Linked DNA regions of Homo sapiens: region 1 is linked to region 2. Evidence: fine-mapped expression QTL. A gene starts in region 2. The other region holds a variant in brackets. All regions are shown on one strand. Distances are between the middles of the regions.

Evidence for each region.
Region 1: its variant is fine-mapped to the expression of CDH22 in pancreas (GTEx, PIP above 0.99).

Annotation. Positions count from the first base shown.
Region 1 is chr20:46,324,697-46,336,100 of GRCh38, reverse strand. No RefSeq gene overlaps it. Among named protein-coding and RNA genes, the nearest start is that of CDH22, 22 kb to the right of the region's middle. The variant C/T (reference allele first, on the strand shown) is at 5,693.
Region 2 is chr20:46,303,382-46,314,785 of GRCh38, reverse strand. CDH22 (cadherin 22) reads left to right here and starts at 6,288. Exons shown (of 12, transcript NM_021248.3): 1 at 6,288-6,531. RefSeq lists an enhancer at 623-1,571 and a silencer at 11,179-11,397.

The DNA of each region.
Region 1 (11,404 bases), 21 kb before region 2:
TTACAAGTGTGCACCACCATGCCCGGCTAATTTTTGTATTTTTAGTAGAGACGGAGTTTCACCATGTTGGCCAGGCTAGTTTCGAACTCCTGACCTCAGGTGATTCACCCGCCTTGGCCTCCCAAAGTGCTGGGATTACAGGCGTGAGCCACCATATCTGGTCCTTGATCTACATTTGACAAAAGAGACACAGAGCTGTGGTGGCACTGGACTCTCAGAAGCAATCTGCTCAAAGGTCACCAGCCAGTAAGGTTTGGGGCAGGATATGAAGCCAATTATCTCCTTTCCTGTCTCTTTTCAAAATAGACACTCATTCATTCACTCAAGAGATGGTCCCAAGCTAAGCCCCAGGGAACTGGCAATAAATAAGGTAGACATAGCACCTGCCCTCAAGGAACTTCGAGTCCCGTGGACTCAGGATGCTCCCCCCACACTTCACCGATTTGAAGGGAGACCTATTTTTGCTAGATTTTCCTTCAAAGAAGGAAGGCAAGATCTAGCAATCTTGCCCACTCGCAATCTTGCATCACTTGCCCAAGGTCACTCAGCATCAGATCTAGATGACAGATAGGGAAGTGCCTTGAGTCTAGAGTTATGGCCAGGAATAGGAGCGTTCTCTGTCCTTGGGGATGACATCCACTCACTAATAAGCCCAGAGATAGACACTAGGATCCCAGGATGAATAAGAGTCCTAAAATGAAGGATTCCACAGCCAAATGCACTGGGAAAAGCTACACCATCTCCACCCCTCCCTGCAAGTCTGCTGCTCCTGAACACACTGTAGGCTCTCTGAAAATTTCTACAGAAAGAAACCACTTAACTCGATGTTTCTCAAATGTACTTGACCATGTGAACCTTTTTTTCCAGCCACACCTACTGAATTTGGAGTATGATAGGCAGAGGAAAGAACACAGGCTCTGGATGGGATCAAACTGTCAAGATATTAAAACACAGAGGAGGGAAGGTCACTTGCCCAGGTCACTCAGCATCAGATCTAGAGCCTGGGTCTCCATGCTGTTGCTAACATGAGAAGATCCTTAAGGATATTCTGCCTGGCCTCCTCTCTCAGAGAGGTGGCCCTGACAACCTGCTATGTGGTAGTTCATTCTGGAGCTGCTGATTCCTTCCTAGCCTTTGTGCAAATTAAAAGAAGGTACCACCTTCTTCTGGGCCAACAAAATCCCATGTCAGAGCACATGGATTGCAAAAGTGTAGTATGGGCTGGATTTCAGCCCCCACTTGCCCCCTTAGCCAAGCACCCTGGTGCAGGACACAACCTGTGCAACTGTACATGGCCACCCTTATTAGCCCTTTCCTCATTCCTCCTCACTCATTCTACCCTTGGCCACTTCACGTGAGGGGCGCCCTCCCCTCAGTGCTGGGCTGAGGCTGGTGTGGGAACAGCCCAGTTGTTGGGGCTGTACTTCCAAACCCCAAAGCAGCATCAGCCAAAGGTGCTGACTCAGCAAACCTTAATTTATCTCACAGGCCAGGGGTGCGCGTGAAGCAATTAGTGAAATAATGGTTATGTCGCACTAAAAATTATTTATAGAGTCACCGTGCACACAGCTGTGATTAAATTAGACAACCAGGGGGACTTTAACTGCTGGCGGAACCAGCATCCCAGGCCCGGGCTGCAGCTGGCTGGGGGTGGGGCAGGGTCATGCTTCTGGTCTGCTCACCCACTCCAGGCAGCTGAGCCAACCCTGACCCAGGCCAGGACATAGGGGGTCTACCTGGGCAGGGGTCTTGGGAGGAATCCCTGTCCCAGAGAGTCTGCGCTGCCAGGAGCCCTGAAAATAAACAAGTAGGGGGCTTTCACACATTCAAGGCTGAGCGGCAGGAAGTTTGTTCACGTGGAGCCTTCCGCAGCCCTTCACGAGTGAAAGAGACGTGGACTGAGAACCAGAAAAGGTGGTCCCGGAGCTCCGCGGGCTTGGTGTTGACTCCAACAGTGGCCCCCGAGAGCCCAGATCCCAGCTGGAAACCATAGATCGGTGAAGCCCTCTCATTTTACAGTTGGTGAAACAAAAGGCCAGGGATTTCCTCTCTCTTGTTCCTCCAGCAGACATCAGGAGACCTTTGATCCAGCTGGGATCCTGGATGAACTCTTTCCCCTCTCTGGACCTCAGTGTATCCCCCTGAAAAGTAAAGTGTTGCACAGGCAACAGATATTGATCAAGCACCTATTGCCAACTGGATACTGTTCTGTGTTTATATTTATTGCCTTATTCAAGTTTGCTTATATTCTTCTTTAGCTCCTCACAACATTCCTATAAAGTACGTATTATTGTTGCCACTTTACAGATGGAGAATCTGAGGTTCAGAGAGGTGAAGATATTTGCCCACAGTCACACAGCAAGTGAAGCAGAGCCGTTTTTCTAAAGGCCCATCAGACTGTAATGATAGAACATTGTGGTACACTGGGCTGAGATGCTGCAAAACGAAAACAGAACTTCCTTTGCACCGGCTTCTGGGCAGGACACTTGAGATGCCTCATTTCATTTCATTAGCAGCCCCTCAGGGGTAGATGTGGAAGCTGAGTCACAGAGTGGTTCAAGCCCCCTGTGATTGGCAGGGCTTATTTTTATCAGCAAGACCTGAGCTAAGGAGCTCCAAAGGGGTTGCAAATGGAGCTGCCCACAGGGGCCCAGCAAGTACCAAAAACAGACCTGGATGGTGGCTGTGGCCATCTGGACTCCCTTGCAAGCTCTGCCTTCAAATCCATCTGTTACCATGATGCAGCCCCAAGTTCAGGCCACCCACGTCTAGAGCACAAACCTTTGCCCAAAGACCAGAGCTACCTGTGTGATTTCAGGATTCTCCCTGGGAGCTGATGGTACCAGCTGCTCCGAGAAGTGGCAGCCGGGCGGAGAGTGTGGGTGGCAGTCAGGAAGCCCTCAGGGCACTGGCTTCTGGCCTGGCTCATCTGCCAAACCTGGGCCCTGCAAGCCTGGCACTCCCATCTAAGCTAAAGATAGTTTCAGACCATTTCACAAGAGTCGCAAGCCCAATCACCTTTTTACAGCCAGGGCATCTTCTTGCACCTCCCTGGCCCTGCCTCTAAACAAGCCCCTAGAGGCTCAGAGGAGTGGAGTGACTGGGCAGGGCCTCGAGGCTCAAGGCTCCCCCAGCCCCCTCCCCTCCCCTCTTCCAGCACCTTCCCCGATGCCTCCCTCATGCTCTGCTGTGAACAGGCGGGTCCCTCTCTCCAATCACAATTCTGCTGGCAAAGGGGATGAAGCTTGCTCTCCAGATGCCTCCTGCCCAGTGGCATCTGATCCAGGACCCTACAGGAGGAGGGCTAGAGGAGGAGAGGCCAGAGGATTGGGAGGAGCTGGCTGACCCTGGCGCCCTATCTCCCAGCAGGTATTTCCCGGGGAGTAACCTCTTACCCCACAAGACGCATCCTCCCCCTCCTTATTCCCCTGCCCCTGCCCAACATGGCTCCTCATTCAAACCAGGGCTGGCCTCTAGGTGCTCCCAGGTATGCGTGGGGCCTGGGTCGGCCCTGAGTCCCGCTGCTGCCTCTGGCCACTTAGCATGCAGTCCTTGTTTGCGACTGCAGCAACCAAATGAGATTAGCTTGCCTGCTCCAGCAGGTCCCCACTTGCCACCACCCACGGCCCTGCACAGCCACCAGCTGTTCTGGGAGCCTCCCACAGCCCCAGCCTGCCATCTCACCCCCATCACAGTTGGGCCAGTGAGGGGAAGGTAGGGAGAGGGTAAACAATCCTGCCCGGCTTTGTAGCCCCCAGATCCACCACCGCTCCCCACCAGGCCTTCTGGAGTCAGCAGTGGGGGGTAGGGATGCAGAGGGAGACAAACAGGATTCGGGATCCATCCTTGCTTGTATTCCTGGTCAGTTCTCCTCATGCCTGTAATCCCAGCACTCTGGGAGGCGCAGGCAGGAGGATCACTTGAAGCCAAGACTTTGATCTTGAGGCCAGGAGTTTGAGATCAGCCTGCACAACACAGTGGGACCTCGTCTCTACAAAGTTTAAAAATTAGCCAGGCGAGGTGGCACGTGCCTGTAATTCCAGCTACTTGGGAGGCTGAGGCTGGAGGATTACTTGAGCCTGGGAGGTCAAGGCTGCAGTAAGCTGTGATCACACCACTGCACTCCAGCTAGGGCGACAGAGCAACACCTTGTCTCAATAAAACAAAAAGGAAAAACCAAAACAAACAAAGAAAACTTCCTGGTGGGGAGCAAATCAGGAGGGCCTGGCTGGCTTCACCTAGACTGCCCCTCCTGTTGAATCCCCAGCCCAGCTGCCCTCCCTCCTCTGCCCCTGCGGGCCACAGGGGAGCCAGCAGAAGGGCCTGGCTCAGCCCGAGGCCTCCCTGCAACCCTCCCAGCCAGTGAAGGGTGTGGCTGGAAAAGGGGCCCAGTCCAGCCCAAGGAGTGTCCAGGGCCTGTGCAGGAGACTGGCAGGAAGAAAGTTTTCAAGAAAGCTGAGCTCCAAACCAGGCGACCGGAGAGGCGAGAAACCCCTTTGATGTCAGGACTCAGGTGTAGGTGTCTCGTAGAGGATTCCCGTGTTCCTGCTGACAGTCACAGCTGCCTCCCTGACTGTGGTCCTGGCTCGCCTGTGTCCTCCAGCAGCTTCTTTCTCTGACCACCATGCCCCCATCCCTCCCAGGTCTGTATCCCACAGACCCCCTGCCCAGACAGCACTAAAATCCTCTCGAGGCCACCCCGAGGCTCCTTTCCTAGCTGGGCTCCCACCGAGCTGCTGCCCAGCACACACCTCTCCTCACCTCTCCTCATACTCCCTGCCTGTCTCCTTCCCCTCCTTCCCCTACTCCCCCGACCTTCGAAGCCCAGGCTGCGGCTCCCGCACTGCACCCTCACCTCACACTTCAGCCCTGCACACATCAACTTGCGCTTCTCTCTACACGCACTTGCTGTGTAGCTTCGGGCAAATCACTGAACCACTTTGAGCCTCACTTTCCCCATCTGTAAAATGGGAGTGATCCCTACTTCTCTCAAGGGCAGATGTATGGCTCAAATTAGATCACAGCTGTGCATGTCCATCTGAATTTAGAACAGTCCGAGGGATTATTCATCGGGTTTGACGGCTTCTCCTGGGCTTGTAGATTTCGGCATGGGTCTTTGTCCCGGCCACACAGATGCTGCTCAGCATGGTTCATTTGGAGCAGACATGGCCCCTTCCATAGTGGACAGGGATCCCTTCCAGCCTCTGGCCACAGGCAGATGAAGGGAGCTGCTGCATGCAAAGGCAGGAGGGTGTGGATTAGGAGCCATCACGGGAAATGGCTTTCTTATCACGACACAACCGGTATTGCCAGGGCCAACTCTGGAAATTGAATTGCTCCCCCACTCCATGCCCCCTCAATACCTCTTCCCTCTGCTTCCTGCTCCCTCCCTAGCCCCATCCCCCATGACAGGGAGAGACCCAGAGACAGCGATGCAGGACAGAGCAAGTAGAGGGGGCAGTGGGGGTGCTCAGAGACTGAGGCAGAGATTGGGGCACCAGGAGGCAAGGGCAGGTTTGGCAAAATGCCAAAGGCAGGGCAGGGATGGGGCCACAGAGGGGGCCACTCAGGAATTCAGTAGACAGGGGGTGCCACCCTCCCCGTGGAATTCCCCACCACCCCACACCCGCCAGGCCAGAGCTTTGGCCAGCCAGGTTGGTGTCATCTCCTCTCTGTTGGCCCCTCTCCAGCT[C/T]CCACCTTGGCGCCTCTGCAGGGCCCGGGAAGGACCCTGATGGCCAGGGCAGAACCCTGGGCTGGCGCCCACGGGTGCTTGGATGTAGTCCCAGTGAGTTCCTGGCAGAGCCAGTCTGCAGGTGGTGGGGAGCAGGCCCAGTGGCCGGGGGCAGCCAGCTGTGTAATCAGGCGGGTTCTCACCACAGCCAGCCCAAGGGAGGAGGCGCACAGGGAGGGGCAGAGGGGGGGCCCAGCCCACCTGCCTCCAGCTCCCCTGGCAGCCCAACCTAGAGTCTCTCGGGGTAAACTCAGAGTCCAGGAGGCTCAGGAGGAGCTGCCGGAGGCTGTGCGGAGGCCTAGGACCCCATGAGTAGACCTCCAGCCAGCCCAGCCCCCAGGCCAGATGCAAAATCAGGAGCTAAAGGGTGCTGCCTCCCAGCCTGGCATGGTCCTGCCTCCCCTTCCCAACCCAGCATCTTGGTGTATAGCCTAAAAGTCTCAGACCCTCTCATGAACTGACCCCTGCCGTCAGCCTTTAGACTCTCAGCCCAGAAGTAGCCCCTTCCCTTAGACCCCTCTCTTCTCAGCCCCAGCTCACCCATCTCCCACCATGTGCCCATCCATGACTAGCCTGGTGCTCAGGAGCCGCAGCAGCCAGGGAGCCCGGCATGGGGGCACTGCAGCCCCAGGACCACGTGGCTTCTTCTCTACTCAGCCCACCCTGCCCAAACACATAAACTCTCTCTCTCTCTCTCTCACTCATTCACAATGTATTGCTGAATCTCAAGTTCATATGTTATGAGCTCCAGGGACCTCTTAATTCAACCTCCATTTACAGGTGGGGAAACCGAAGCCCAAGACAGAATGGACTTGTCCAAAGTCACCTGACAAGGGAATCCCTCTAAGCCCCAGCCAGCCCTTCCCTCCAAGGGTGCCCTCCCCTGGGAGTCCCCCTCTGGCCTCAGGACTCTCTCTGCCCAGACTTTGTGGGTTCTCCTGGCCTCTGCACTCACCTGCACCTCCCAGACCTGGCCAATTGCAGGGCCCCAAAGTTAATAAATCAAGGTGACTTTGGGGACAAGATTCAGCCTCTTTCTCCCTTGTCCCTCCCATTTGCATAATCCTGGCTGGCAATATGATAATGATGTTTGTTAAAGACAGAGCACAATAAATTAATACCGTTAAGTTGTTGCTGCAAAATGCAAAGCAGGTAATTTACTGCCAGCGAGGAACGGAGCCTTTAAACTGTAATGGATTAACTTTCCCAGCAGCAAATATGTCCCCCGAGGGAGGGAGGCAGGTGGGTGGGCTGGGTTGATGATAGGGGGGCCTGCCTGCTTCCCAGGGTTGGGCCAAGTGTCCAAGCCAAGATCTTAGGCCTGCACCTATGTCAGCCCCTCTCCATTGTACATAAGGGGAAACTGAGTCTTGTGCAAGACAGGGAGCTATGGAAGGCCACAGCAGGGCTGTGGTGGTGACCTGCCGGCTTTGTATGACAGCCCATTACCCTCTAGAGGAGGGGGCTGCAGATGCCTCATTTGCACACCTACTCTGGAACGCTCAGGAGGAGCTCCTGTTACAGACCCTGAACCTCCTCTTCCTTGAGGGGGACTAGTGATGTCCTCCCCAGAATCCCCCAGGCCCAAGAGAGGCCTCAGCTGCAGAGTCAGTCCTAGCCCAAGGAGGGAAGGATCCTGGGTTTTGTTAGGACTGAGAGGAGGGGAGTGGGAAGGGGAAGCGGGGGCGTGCCAAGAATGGGGTTAGACCTTGCCCTGATGCCCTCGGATACTGGGAGGGAGGGGCTGTGGAAGGAGGAGAGGAATGGGTCTCTCGAGAGGAAAGGTGAATTCTATGGTTGACGGGGAGGGGAGTGGGATGGCGGCAGCGGGGAAGGTGGGTGGGCAATGGGAGGCTGGGAGTAGGAGCGGCTGGCAGGCCTAAGGAGAAACTCAGGCACTGGCCCAGGGCCCCTCAGGGGCACCTCCTCCACTGGGGCTCAGACAGCTCCTTGGGTCCCTAGGAGAATTGCCGCAGCCCCAGCCCAGGGCGGGCCGGCAGGCGGGTCTCAGGGACCCCAGCGGAATTCTAATTTCTCATTTATCTCTGCAGCTTCTCCTGCGATATTAAAGGGGCGATGCTCTGCAGTTGGCTCCCAGGCTAATTGGATTTGGGCCTCCTCTCACTCCCTGGTGAGGGAGGGGGATGTGGCAGCCTTGATGGGGGAGGGGATGTTTGAGGACTTGGGCTGAGGCTGTGGTCCAAGGCCAGACTCCTAGGCTACAGTCCTGACCATCATGTGGCCTTCCCAAGCCTCTGCCCCTCTCCGGGCCCCGCATTCCCTCACCTGAGATGATGATAATGATATTAATAATATTAGTAATAAAAACAACAACCATGATTTGCATAGCATTTCCTAGACATAGACACTGTTCTTAGTGCTATTCAGGACAGCACTCCTCACCCCCTCATCCTAACAACAGCCCAGTGCATTAAGTATGATTACGTTCATTGCACAGACGAGTAAACTGAGGCATGGAGGGGTTAAGTAAGTTGCTCAGAGTCCAGACAGCACCCACAGTGAATGTCTTTCAGGTTTGTGAGGGGCCTAGAATCCCAACTTTAAAAACCCCGTTACGCTCAAATAGGCCTAAGGTGGGGGTGTTACTGCCTGCACCCATTTCACCGATGGGGAAACTGAGGTCTGACCCAGACATATTTTTAGCTTTAATTTTCTGTAGCTCCCACCAAGGGCTCCCTTCCTTCTCCTCCACCCCAGGGCCCAGGGTGTTTCCAGGGTAGAAGGCTGGGGCTTCAGAGGGCGCATTCAGTGCAAGTGTCTGAGGTGGGGCAGGGGAACTTGCTCCCAACACCTGCCTTTCCTCCATCGGCCCTGCCTTTCTCCTTCTCTGAGCGGAGGCCTCTGTCCCAGCATCCTCCAGGCCTGCTGGGGTCCCTTGTCCCACACTGCTCACCTGGAGGGAGGACCTCACCTCCTTAGCACAAATTAATTCCCACATGTGCCCCAGATGCAAACCACACAGCTCTGCAAGTCCACAGTGGAATAATGGAGAGGGGAGGAGGCCGTACATGGAAGCCTGTTTCCCAGTGACCCTAGAGACCGGCCCTTTACGCATGTTGCCTCATGTCATCTTCATGATAGACATGGCTCCAATGCCCATTTTACAAAGAAACAGAGGCTCCCGTGGAATGTTTCAGGCCAGGCCACACGGCAAGGACCTGATTGAGCTGAGATTCAAACCCAGGTTTATCTTGATCCAGAACCTGAGCTCTGGATACATCCTCCTGTGCAAGAGAGAAGTTGAGACTCCTTTGGAAGTTCAGTATCAGAGGGCCTGGAACTGGAACCCAGGATGACTACAGTGGAAGGAGCCCTGCACTGGGAACCGGTAGACCTGGGTTTCGATGTCTACCTGGCCCCAAACTCACTGTGTAGTCCTGGGTGAGTCACTTGGCTTCTCTGAGCTCAAAGGCAAAATGCAGAAACCACCGTGCCTACCTTATGGGGCTATTGTAAGTATTACAGGAAGTACAAGTAAAGCACTTATCACAGTGCCTGACACGTAATAGGTACTCAACCCAGGCTAGCCATCATTCTGTGGATGTATTCATGCTCACCTCCCAAGACTGCTGGGATAGCACCCGGGCAGAGCTTTGTTCTGTGTCATGGTCTCAGAGATTGCCAGAGCTAGAAGCATTGAGCACAATACCCTTGTCTTTCAAATGGGGAAACTGAGGCAAAGGGTTTCAACAAGTGAGTGGCAGGGCAAGGACTCAGCTCCAAGTGCCCTGGTGGCCTCCCTGCTCAGCAAAGATGACAGTTCTCCTTCCAGTCTCCTTTTGCCCTGGGTGTCTGCATCTGTCTGTCCAGGCGTCCCTCCCTGAGAGGCCAGCTGGATGGCTGACCCCTGCAGCTCTTTCCAGTCCAGCCGCTGGCAGGAACCAGCCAGAATAAATGCAAAGAGACCCCCTCTGGAGGCTGTTCTTGCCGTGTCCCCCGTCCAAATGTTAATTTTGCCAGGGCCTTGATAAATCTTCCTGTCGTCTCCATCCGCTGGAGACATAGATTTCATCTTATTGAAAGGTGACACTACTGCCCTTTGGTACCAGCTATCAATTTCAGGTGGCAATCAGAGTGGAGAGCAACAAAGAATCAGGCCCCATTAACTCCCCTTCTGCCACCGAATCCTACCTTTAAATCTTTTGGGGCCATCCTACTTGAGATGTCTGCTTCACCTGCCCTTCCAAAAAGGTGTCAGGACCTCATCTTTAGCCTTTCAGGGCATGCCTGGTTGAGTTCCTTTCTCAGGCCTCCAGAGCCACTTTGCTTCCCAGTGGGCAGACTGAAAGAGTCAGGAAATTAATGTCCAGCTCTTAACTGATGACTATTTGAAGCCAGAGTATAAGTACCCCAGCTCCTCCCTCACCCTTTGCTGGGGAATGGGAGTGGATTGCTCTGTGATGTGAGTCCTATTCTCCCTCCCAGAATTCCCCAGCAGAGTTGAGCTCCAGTTGCCCACAGTAGTAACAGGCTTGATAAAGCACCCGGTATTGGTTGCCTGCCTTTCCTGTATCACTTTCCCACTGTCCTACTGGTGCTTCCTGGGATCATTTCCCAAATAAATTACTTGCCCTTGAATCCATTTCTCAGGGTCTACTCTGGAACCCAAACTGTGGGAACACTGAAGATTTTTTAGCATCTCAAGATGGAATGCACTCCACTCAGCAGTGGAGATACAAGAGGCCTGACGTGTATTGATTGCCCACGACATGGCAGGAATCATGTGTTTTGGCTGCTAGATCAGTTTTTCATTCATGCTGCCAGACAGCTCTGGGAGGACTTGCCCCAGTTTTACAGATGAAGAAACATGCTCAGAGAGGTGAAGCGACTTACCCAAGGCCACACAGCCAGCAAACAAAAGTCAATATCCAAACCCAGGGAGCACACTGTCTTATCCACTCCATTCTACCACCTCTAGACAGGGGCATGAAATGGAGCCAGGGCTCACTTCCAGGTACAATCAGCAGTGCAGATGGGTAAATTTCTCCTGAGGGCATACTATGAGGCAGGCAGCCTTCTGCAAGGTGCTAAGGACAGCGCAATGAAAAGACGCAGTTCCTGTTCTCAAAGGGGCTGGAAGTGGTGGGGGAGATAGACCTGTGAAAGACTGTATGGCTGGGACCTCTCTCAGAGTGCACTGCAGCCTCTTCCCTGCAAAATCCCATCTTACAATCATGGGACATTCCTGCAGGGGGCAGCTGAGAGGTTGTCTATTTCAACACATTATTATATGGAGGCCACCGAGGTCTCAAGAGAGGCATTCACCCACAGTTGTACTCCATGGCCAGGGCTCTTGTGTTTGAACTCAGCTGAGGATTTCTGCAACAGAGCCACAGGTTTCCTCAGGCTCACAAGCAATTCTGAAAACTCAGAAGTCTCTAAATTAAAACAAAAAACAAACAAACAAAAAAACACCTTGCAACATAAAACATTTAAACTTCTATATGCCCTAAGGAAAACTTAATAATTATACAGACTTAAAATATTTGCATATCACAGGTAAAGGGTTAATACCCTTAATATACAAAGAGCTTTTGCCAATCAATAAGAGAAAAACAACCAGAAAAATGGACAAAAGATAGCAGCAGAAGATGCCTGTGTAAGGCGTTAATGCAAGACCTCTGGACTTCCGAGGATCCGGAGGGTGGTAAA
Region 2 (11,404 bases):
GAAGAAAACAGGGACATGTGTTCCAGGTCCAGTGGAGTGCAGAGGTGGGACAGCTTCATGCCACCTGCTGGATTAATACTTAAGCTGGATTTCAAAAGATAAATAGGAGTTTTCCAGCAAAACAGAGGAAGAGAGGGAGCTCCAGGTGGCAGGGACAACATTAAAAAAGCTCAGAGTGGATAAAAGCTAAAAGAGTTTGGCACTACCAGAATATAAGGTGCAAGAAGGAAACAGCTGGAGAGGAAGCTGGAGAGGCAATGCCCTGTTCCTCATGCTGAAGCCATAATGGTGGGCTTTCAGGTAGCTGCAGAGAAGCTATTCTTAGATGGGTCCTCCTCTCTTGCCAGAACAACATGAATGAAATGGTACGGCAAAGTCCACTTCCTCATGGGTGAGAACCTTCAGGTGAAGGAAGGTCCGGGTTCCCTGGCATGTTGGCCCCAGCCCTCCTGGTGCTCAGCAGGTCACTCGGCCCGGGGTGGGTCCCTCGTCCTCATCCCCTTGCAGATCCCCTTTCCCTTCCCACTGGCGGCTCTTCTCTAGGCCAGGAATAGAACCTCACATCTGACAATCCTCAGCGGTGTTTAAATTTAATGGGCCTTTCTGCTTTTTTCCTCCTCAGCACCTGGGCTGGGCGCTCTGCAGCAGCCCTGGGGAGAGGCAGGTGAATAATTCAGGGAGAGTCGGTGTTTGAAGTGTGTGTGGGGAGTGTGGTAGGGCTGTCTCACCCCACCACCCCAGGGAAGGGGGCTCAAGAGGGAAGGTCCAAGTGCTCAGTTTCTGCTGTACTCTGCTGTGTCTTTAGGGACTTTCAGGGAAGCTCAGGGGACTCTTATTCCCATCTCCACGCAGCCACCTGCAGTGTCAGGCCTCAGGGCTGCAGAAGCTGTCTAGGGCTGACAGGTAGGGAGAGGGAAAGGAGGGAGGCGCGTCTTTCCCACTGGCTTTGGATCTGGGTCCAAAGAGAGAGAGAGAGAAGAGACAGAGTGTGTGTAGGAGACAGAAGGTTGGGACCTAGCCCCAGACAGAGGTTACAGGAGCGGGGTTAGGGAGCTGGGATGTGGGCTGAGATGTCATGCCCAGAAGCAGGGCGGGCCCACCAGGCTGCGGGAGAGCTTCCGGTGTAAAGCTGGATCCTGGCCTGGGCCATAGCCACTGTCCATAGTGCTGCCGTTGTGCTTAGGCCCTGGATGGAGTGCCAAGTTCCCAAGGCTTGGAACTTGGCAGGTGCTGGGCTCCTGTTTTTCCCACCTGGCCCCACCCCAGCCCACCACAGACAAAGTAGCCTTTCCATTTTCTAACCTTGGCACCTTTCCAGCATTTGCATTCATTCATTCATGCATACCTTTAACAAGTATTTATTGAGCATCTACTATATGCTGCATTCGGAGGATAGTGCAGTGAACAAAACAGACTCAATTCTTAAGCTCCTAGAACTTGTGTTCCATCCCTGCACCCACTTCCTTGAGGAAAAAGAGGGGAAAGGAGAGGAAGGAGCTGGCCTTAAATTCCTGTTCGTCCCCTGACTTGGTCTGAGTCGTCCAGCAAGTCACTTTCTCCCCTTAAACCTTGGTTTCCCCAGCGGTAGCATGGGGACGATAACCCTGTTTTGTGAGTTGTTGCTGCTATTCTTCTTATTAATTACAGCAAACACTTATTCTAAGTGCCTTACAAGGATTTGCTCATCCAATCTTCACCATCTCTATTTTACTATAAGGAAATTGAGATGTGGAGAGGTGAAGTCACTTGCCCAGGGTGACACAGCTGGCAAGTGGCGGTGATGGGATTTGAACCCAGGCAGTCTGGCTGCGGGGTCTGCGAGGATTAACGCCATGAGGTGGAGGTGCTTAAGGGCGCAGCGGCCTCGGCGCCTGTGGCTCCCGCAGGCTCGCCCCTCCCCGTCCTGGCGCCCCCAGCCAAGGGCGGCCTCCCCGTCCCCTCGAAGTTCCCTTCCCATGGAGTCCCCTCCCCAAGTAGTCCCCTCCCCCTCCCTGCGGTCCCGTCGGCCCCGGCGGAGAAAGCGGGCTCGCAGAGGTGCAGAGCGCCCGGAGTCCCAGGTGGGGCGCCCTCGTTCGGGTCCCGGGTCCCTCTGGGGAGGGGCTAGGGTGTGCCCCGGCTGCTCCCTACGCCCCCCGGCGGGCTGGCGGCCCCGTCCCCGCGCTGACATTTCTTTGGTTGTTCATGTCACGGCCCTTCAGTCTGCGCAGTTTTACAAATGTGCTGGCGAGATGAAAGGCGCCGGGAACAGCGACTGGAGAACAAGTTCGGAAAAGCTTTTAACTTCCAGCTCCCACAGACAAAGCGGGAGGAGGGGGAGGAAGGGAGGGAAGGGAGGGGAAGCACAGAGTGGGGAGAGTAGAGGAAGGGAGCGGGAGGAGGGGAGTGGGAAGGAAGGAGGGAAGGAGGAAGAGGAGAAGGAAGTGTGGGGAGAAGAGAGAAAGGGAAACGGGGCACTGAGAGTGCGGGATGAGGACAGAGAGAACCAGAATAGGACAGGCAAGAGGGAGACAGAGGGAGACTGGGTGCCCCGAAGAAACAGAGATGGGAAGAGACAGAGAAACAGAGAGAGGGAGACAGACATGGAGGCAGAGAGAACAGGACAGAGGGAGGGGGAAACGGAAAGAGAACGACAGACGCAGGGACACAGCTAGGAGATAAGCAGATGGGGGGAGGGGAGAAGGGTGCTAGAGAAGATGTAGGGGCAGGTAGCAAGAGACTGACACCCATTCAGAAACAGTCAGAGAGACCAGAGACACTGAGGGGGAGGAGACAGAGACAGGAGTGGAGGCAGTCAGAGAAGCGAGGACAGATGGACAGTGCATGAGAAGGCGACAGACAGATAAAGGGATGACAGAGAAGTGTAGAGAAGAAGAGGAAAAGAGCCAGGGAGAATAGCAGAGCCTGGAGCTAAGAGCAGCCTCCCCATCCCCAACACACACGCGTGTATGCACTCACACACACACACACACACACACACACACACACCCTTCACTGACCCCTGCTCAAACCTGCAGGCTCCCTGGAGCAGACCCTGCTGTTAGGGCGTTCAGACTAGAGCAGTGGCTCTCAACTGGGGGTGACTTTGCCCTTCAGGAGACATTTGGCAATGTCAGGACACATTTTTAGTTGTCACAACTGGGGAGGGGGTGTGCTGCTGGCATCTAGTGGGTAGAAGCTGGGGATGCTACTAAGCATCCTACATGGGACATGCCCAATGACGAAGAATTATCTGGCCCAAATGTCAATAGGGCCAAAGTGGAGTGACCCTGGGCTAGAGAGAGAGAAATGCCCATGGACCCAGATGACTACTCCAGGGGAAAACATGTCCCCTGTGCCAAGACAGGGCTGTGTGCCCTTCTGATGGAGTGGGAAGGAGAATTCTCACAAGCGCCTCCTCTTGGAATCCTTCCCTAGCCATGCCTCTCTCCCCAAGTCCTTCCTCATCCTACCCAATCCCTGGAGGAGTGGTGTCTCTCTTATTTGTAGACTCACCACACGATATAAAAAAGCACACGTTCAAACTCTAACTACAAAGCACTTGGCATTTTATTTGCCCAGAGGCAATATTGCACAACAGTTCAGTGTGCAGGCTTTGGCCCCAGCCTGCCTTGGTTTGAATCCCAGCTCTGCCATAAACTAATTGTGTGACCTTGGGCACGTTTCATAGTTGCACTGTGCCTCAGTTTCCCCATTATGAATTTATAAATTTGTTGAAAGTAAAAGGAAATTATCTGTGTAAAACATTTAGGAGAAGGCTTGACACATGGCACAGGTTCACTAAATGTTAACTGTTGTTACTATCATCTCATTTTCTCTTCACATCAATGCTGGGGGAAGTGGCTTGCCCACGTGTCACACAGTCTGCATGGGGCAGAACTGCTCTCAGAGCCCAGGCCTGCCCAGTTCTTCCTCTGTCACACTACACTGCCTCTTGCTGCCCCTGCCACACTGCAGCAGGAGTCCCAGCTTACCTTCTCCCAGACCAGAGTGAGAGGTCTGACCCAGGCCCAATGCGTCAACCTGATCTCTCTACTTGCCGTCTGAATGATCTTGCTATTTCAACACCGTGTCTCAGTTTCCTCATTTGTAAAATGGGCTAATACTAGTATCTGATTATTGTGAGGACTTAAAAGCAGAACTATGGCACACAGCAAGTGCTCAATAAACATTCAATGTGTTCTCAGAGCCTAGCCATAGTGCTCACAACAGAGTGGACACTCAGAGAAAGTTTGTTGAAGGAAGGAAGAATTGGAAATAACGGTAGAATGAGCCTGAAAATAGGAAACATTGGGATAGGAAAACCTGAGGGTCTAATAAAGAGTCATGGGGAGCTGGGTGCAGCAGCACATGCCTGGTGTCCCAGTTACTTGAGAGGCTGAGGCAGAATGATCACCTGAGTCCAGGAATCCAGCCTGGACAACATAGTGAGACCCCCATCTCAAAAAAAAATAAAAATAAAAGAGAGAGAAGAGAGAGACCAGAGCAAAAGAGAAAGATGTGACAACAGTTCATTCAATAACATTTATTGAGCACCTACTGTGTGCATGCAGATGTGACAGCAACAGTGTCCCAGACCAAAACAACCTGTGGACAACTAAGTAGGTCTGACTCCAGAGATGAACAGCACACACCAGAGCCTGGAGGAAGAGGCAAAGAAGGAATGGGAACTGGAGCAAACAGCAAAAGTGAGTCAGAGCGGGAGGAGAGAACCAAAAGTGAAGAGATGCACCTGGAAGGCTGGCCTCTGGTCTCTGAAAGCATGAAAGAGTGGAGGCTAAGAATAGAGAGGAGAGGGGAAGAGAGAGATGGAGAAAAGGAAGGCGATAGAAAGGCAAGGCTGGAAGAGATCAATGAAGGGAAATAAACCAAGAGAAGGACGTAGGGGAGGGAACAGACTGGCACAGTGGAGAATACATCTCAAAATAAATAAATGAATGATGGAGTTTAGTAGGAGGGGCCAGAGGGGCAGCCAGCAGGAGAGGTGATTCCAATCATCAGCAAGACGGACTAGGGTGTGGAGATGGAGATGGAAATTGGGGAAGGAGGCGAGGAGGAGAGAAGGATAGGGGCGAGGTAGAGCTGGGGGTCCTGGAGGGCCCTGCCCCCTCTTTGCCATGAACTTCAGCAGCTGCTTGTGGGTGATTAAATGGCTGGTCATTGGCAGCTTGGCGGGACAGAGGTCTGCAGCTGTCCAGTCTCCTGTTATCCTTCACTCACCTATCTGGAAGCCATGGGGAATAGGGGGGCGGGCAACTCCTAAGGGGACCTACAACCCAAGACAAAGGGTGGGTCTATGGGAGTCACTGGTCCTATCCTACCATCAACGACCTCATATTGGGAACTCAGGAGTGGGGTGGGAGGGTCTCCTCCATTAGGCCTCATCCCAGAGAGATGAAGTAGTAAGGAGAGCCAGGCAGCCAGGAGAAAGAAACAGGGCCAGGTGGAAAAAACATCAGGGAGCAGACCAGCCGGATTTTTAAAAGAACGGAAAACCCAACCAGCAAGGAGTTTCTGGGCAGTGGGAAGATTTTATTGGGAGACTTCTCCAGGTCAAGGTGGCACCAAGTTAAGGATGGAGGTGTCTTGTTTTGCCTGCTTACTTTGTTGGTTGCAAGGATGTCCAGCGGGACTCTCCAGAGGAAAAGCCCACAAGTTTCTCTCCCGGGGACACCCGACCTCCCACCTGCCTGGAGACTCAGCCCTGGGCACCTGGTCGGTGTCCACCTCAATGCACAGTGACTGTTTCTGAACTGGCAGATCTGGTCTGTGCAAGGTGCCTTTCTGGGCAGCAAGCCGGGGCGGCCACTGTTCGAGAAGCCTGCTCCTACCCTGGCCTGCGCCCCTGCTCCTCTGAAGGCGGCCTCCCGCAGTAGTCAGGGGGCGGAAATGGGAAGCCCTATTCGCAGTAAAATCAGGTGGGGAAATAGGCTCTGGTCTCAAACTGCGGCCACCTGGGGAGCTGCCAGGCGAGGAGGTAGATGGTCCCCCTCCTGGGGGCGCTCCCTTCGCGCGGATCTGGGGTTGGAGGAGGGAGGGGCACTGTCCCCTGGGGGGTTTCCTGGGACTGGGCCGCCCGAGAGAGGGAAAGGCTGTCCCCTCCTGGTGTAGGAGGGGCGCGATCCGGGGGGCGGGGGCTGGGGTTCCCCGGCTGCGGGGGTCCGGGCCGGCGGCCGCCTGCGGCTTGGCGCTGCGCGGCTCCTGCCCGGCGGGCCCTGCATTCTCCGAGTCTCCACCAGAGGCTGCGGGAGGAAGGAAGGGATCCGTCCCTTGCACACTTCCCCCCAGTCAGACACGCACACTCCCTCGCTCCCGCTCGCTCGCTCACTCCCTCGCTCTCTCGCTCTCTCGCTCTCTCGCTCACACACACGCGCGCACACGCCGCCGCGGCTCCCCCTCTCGCTCCCGCTCTCCCTCCGGCTCCTGCGGGCGGCCGCGGGGCTCCGGACTCGCCCGCTGCCCGCGCCGGGGCTCCCGCCCCACGCAGCGTCCCGAGGCGGCAGGACTAGGGGGAGCCCCGGGCCGCTCCCCGAGGTAAGAGCGCGGGGTGCCGCGGGAGGAGCGGCCGGATCGCCGCCGAGGGGAGGCTGCCCGGCAGGGAGGGAGCCCCCTGGCCGGCGGGAGCGGCCGGGCAGGCGGCGCGGGGGGCGAGCCTCCAGCCGCAGGAGGAGCCGGGGTGCCTGCGCCCGGCCCTGCGCGCCCCCTCCTCTCGGCCGGGAGGGCGGGGAGGGAGTTTCCCACGTCCAAACTTTCCCCGGCGCGGAGCCGAGCCGCCTCTCGGCCCGAAGCCCGCAGCTCCCACCCGTCCCCACAACCTCGTCCGCCGCGCGCCCGGGAGCCTCCGGGACCCCCGCGGGCCGAGGGGTGGCAGCGCCAGGGGCCGAGCCGGCGCGCCAAAAGGGGCTGGGAAGGTGGCGCACAGCCCTGACGCGAGGGCTGGGACCCAGGCGTTCCCGGTCCCCCAACCCTGCTAGCGGGGCTCGGCTCCCCGGCCCCTCCCAGAGGCGGGGTCCGGGGCCGGGAAAATACCGCACGGCGCGAGCGTGTGCGCGCGGTGTGTGTGTGCGAGGTCGTGCCGCGTCCGGGGACACCCGGAGGCTGACTCCAGCCGCGGCGACACGCACGGTTCTGGTCCCCTCTGAGCCGGGGAGGCGGCCCACAGGGACCCCTGCCGGCCCCACCGGCGCGACCCCCCCTGCCCTATGGCCGTCGGGCGGGCTGGCGGTGAGCGAGAGCCAGCGCTGCTCTCTTCCTTAGGACCCGACTCCGGAGACACCGTCCCCGCTGGGGAAGAAGGACGGGGCCCCCGACAGCCTAACGTCCAAAGAGAGCGCCACTTAGGGCTAACCCTCGGGGGCCGCGGCGTTTACTGTGAAGAGTGGACTGCGTGGGCGCGCGGGGTGCCGGGCAGCCCTGGGTGGGCACAGTGTGGACCCGTCTCGCTCGCGCCTCCCCGCTGCCTCTTCTCTGGCAACGTCGGGCCCTGTCCCAGGCGGGGCTGCAGAGGGTAGGGCTGATCCAGGATCCCCCGAGGTCTCCCCGAGGTGCAGGGCACCCCCTTGTGGCGGGCAGAGAAGCTGCTGTTTGAAGCTGCTCAGGTCTTCCGAGGTGCTCGCTCCTTGGAACCTCTTCTCTCCAAACCCTTCGGGCGTCGCCAGGGTTGCGCATGCCAGCTTCTTTTTCCGTGGGGCTGATTCCAGCACTCCCCAGGTTTCTGGGGCTGGCCGAGGTGCCCCCAGCACAGGCAGCGGCTCATTTGAGGGCTTTGGCTGTTGCCAGCTCTCTCTCCCTCTCCACCCAGGTTCAGGATCTCATCCTCTTCTCCCACTGGTCAGCGCCAATACCCTATATCAGCATCACCACTGCCCTAGGGCCCAAAGGCTCCTCCCTAACCACCGCGACTCTCTGTCCTTCATTTGTATCCCGTATATGTGTCCATCAGTGCCCACTCCGTCCCCCTCAGTTGCCCCTAGTCTACAGCCCTTGTTGAAACTTGGCCTCTACACCCATAGTGACATCCTTTGGTCTTTGCCCACCAATGACCATTTCCTCGTCCCCCCCAACCCCGACCCATCTTCTATCCTGTCTGCCTCAGTTTTTCTGTAGCACTCAACTGTTCCCTGCCCCAGCCATTTCTCTACTTCACCCTTATTTCCCTCCTTGTCCCAGTGTCTGGGACACTCCTCTTCCATTCCTCCTGGAAGGGAAGGGCATTGCCAACATTTAAACACTGCTTCCTGGAGATGTCTGTGTGCCCTTCCCGGTCCACCACTGCCAGTGCCTCGGGGGCAGGTACTTTATAAAGCCAGCCAGGTCTCTCTCAGCTAAGGGGCACCTGTACCTCTTGGGTGGCCCCATCAGGGGACCCCTGGAGACAACCCCTTTCCCTATTCCTAACTGTGAGCAGCACATTGGAGACCACCTGGGCTGCCCTCTTTTCCATTTTCAAGGATTGGCAACAGCAGCCCGAGGTCACATGGTAAGCTATACCCAGAGCCGGAATAGGAACCCAGGCATCTTGACATCCAGGCCTCACCAACGCTGCTTATGTGTTGGGTAGGCCTGGGGCAAAACAGAGCCGTTTCTTGGCTTCACGCTGCAGGCAGGACAAGAAGACACTTGCTCTAAATTCAGCATGAGGTGTTCAAGTTAGACCCCCAGTGCTCCCAGGCCAGTGCCGGAGGAAAGCTGTTGAATGCCTTTAGCAGAGACGCCGAGTAGCAGAAGCAGAGGACAAAGTTTGGCCCCTAAAAGTGTGTTGTGACCTCCGGGTGAGTCACAGCCTTTCTGTCAAAAGGGTGGCTGTGATCTCTGGATGTTTCTGGTCGTGCTCTGGAATAATCATACCTAGAGGTTGGAACCCCCAAAGCCCCTGCTGCTTCCCCAGGCACTGGTCTTTCTGAGAGCTTTGCAGGAGCGCTGCATTCTGAAGTTGTCTGACAGGGGGCCGGGCCATAGCTAAGGCAGGGAGCCCAGGAGGGCCCGTCTCCTCCCGAGTTGGCAAAGTTCGGAGCAGCCAGTTTATTTACCACATGGGCGATAAGAGTCAGCCAATTAAACTTCCTCTCCTCTCTCTCTCTGTTCTTCCCCCTCCCCTTTTTCTTCCATCAGGAAGCTCCAATCTGAAATGCAGCCTCAGGTAGAGTGAGAGAGAGTGAATGATTTCTGTTTATATAACACGGGTAGCAGCTGGCACTGCATGGCCTGGGAGGGAGTGAGGGAATAGAAGACCCTACGGTGGTGTCTGGGCTGAGGCCCCGGGGCCAAGGACTTCCTCATTCCTCCCCATAGCTGAGCCAGGAAGGGTGCTAGGGGCTGGGGACCAGGTGGGGAAACAGGCTGAGAGGAAACCCAGGCCTCAGGTCAGGCTCAGAGAGAAAAGCCTCATGCCCCCCGCAAGAGTGGGCACACCCTCCACCCCGGGTTCCTCAAAGCACCTTTAAGATGGAGCTCTCAACTCAGGCCTCTCCTTCCTACAACCTTGTGTTTTGATTCTGGCCTCTCTAGAGAAAGCCTAGATATTTCACCACGAGGACAGGCTCTGACCTCAACTTTTCATCAGGGCAGTGGGCATGATAGGACTGTCTTTCCGCCCATGGAGGAGACAAGGCCTAACAAGAAAGTTGTCTGTGGAGTGATTTGAGCTCTGTGTATCTGGCAGGAGGGACGTTTTCTCATTGTTGATGATACACAGTGGCTGCTTGGAAACAGAGGTGCAGGACAGGAAGGCTGGAGGCATGGCTGTTATATGCAGTTGGGCAGGTTGTTGACTGTCCAAGGGCATTTAATGCAGGAGGAGAGCGGGGACTGAAATCTATTTTAAGCTCCACTCTCCAAGTCAGGTGCCCCAAAGACAGGCTGTGCCTGCCTGGAGGAGGGGGCATCTTTCTCTAATTTGCAAAAAGGCTTCATATACTTACCAGCCATGGGCCTATGGGGCTGCTTACCCCCAGAAAAGGATCCCTTTCTTTAATTACTCCAAAGGTGGCCCATCTGGGGGTTAAGGATATATTCACTACTCACTCCTTAGCTCAGCTCTCTTACAATGGGCACACACCTTTCCGAATATGTGGGTCTGATTTCAAACACATGAGGTACAGCAACCTGGAGGAATTCCCTTCTTCCCCCACATTTCCCTCCATGCCCCATCAGCAGGCTCCTTCCTGCTGTCACATTGGGATTAGGCTGGGAACTTCTTGCTTTGTCGTCAGACCCACAAGCCTTCAGCCATCCACTTGTTACCAGCTCTTTCCTGTGCATAATATAAATAGATGATTAAGCGCGTAGGCATTGGAGTCCAACCAGCCTGAGTTTGTGACTTGCTGGCAAGTTACTTTACCTCTCTGAGCCTTAGTTTCTTCCTCTGTGAAATGGAGGAAAATGTAATACCTGTCTCATTGGGTTGTGAAGATCAAATGTGCATGAGCATGTATGGTGCTGAGCACAATGCCTGGCACATAGGACACCCCATACATAAAGCAGTATTGTTATTGCTCATATCCCTCCATTTATATTCCTTGGTTCCCATGGGGTAAATGCAGCAGTTCCTCCTTGTTTGGTTTTGCACATGATCTCAGCTGCCTGCACCCCTGCAGGAGGGGAATTGAGTTAGGACCACCAGGATCTGTCTCTGACTTCAGGATCCGTCTCTGACTTCAGGATCCTTCTTCCTTTGCCTTGAGGAAGGTGGAGTCCCTGCATGCAGCCGGCAGTGTGGGAACATGTTCTAGAGTCCCACAGATTCATTTCATCCTAATCTCTACCTTTTCTCCCCTCTCATCCATCTCGCGATCCCTTCTCCAGCTCAGACCTCACTGGTTCATGCCTAACCTGTTGTGGCAGCCTCCTCCCTGGTCTCCCAGCCTCTGATACCCTCCCGCTGCAACCCCTGCGGCAACCAGAGCGATCGTTCTCTAACGCAGGTGGGATCGTGTCACTGGCTTGATTAAAACCCTTCCATGGCTCCCCATTGCCTACTGAATTAAGTCCAGACTCGGCACTATGACATTCAAGGTCCTTGTAATCCGTCTGCATCCTCCTTTATCTCCCACTGTGCCTCCAATCTGACACTCCTGCATCCAGCCCCACCTGCCCTTCCACCTGAACAACCTTCCCCGAAGATATTCCAAAGCATTAAGGACCCAACCCAAATAGCACCTCTTCCTTGCATCACCCATCTGCCTGTCTGACCATACATTCATTATCCAGTTTAAAATGTATATATATATATTTACATATAAAGCATTTACATATATTTACATATAAAGCATTACTATGTGTTAAGCATTGTGCTGCATGGTGGAGACACAATGGTGAGCAAGCAGCCTGAATCCCAGCTGACAGGAGTCTGGTGGTCCAGGGAGGAAGATGAACAATTCTCATAACTGTGACAGCCAGTGGGCGGGGC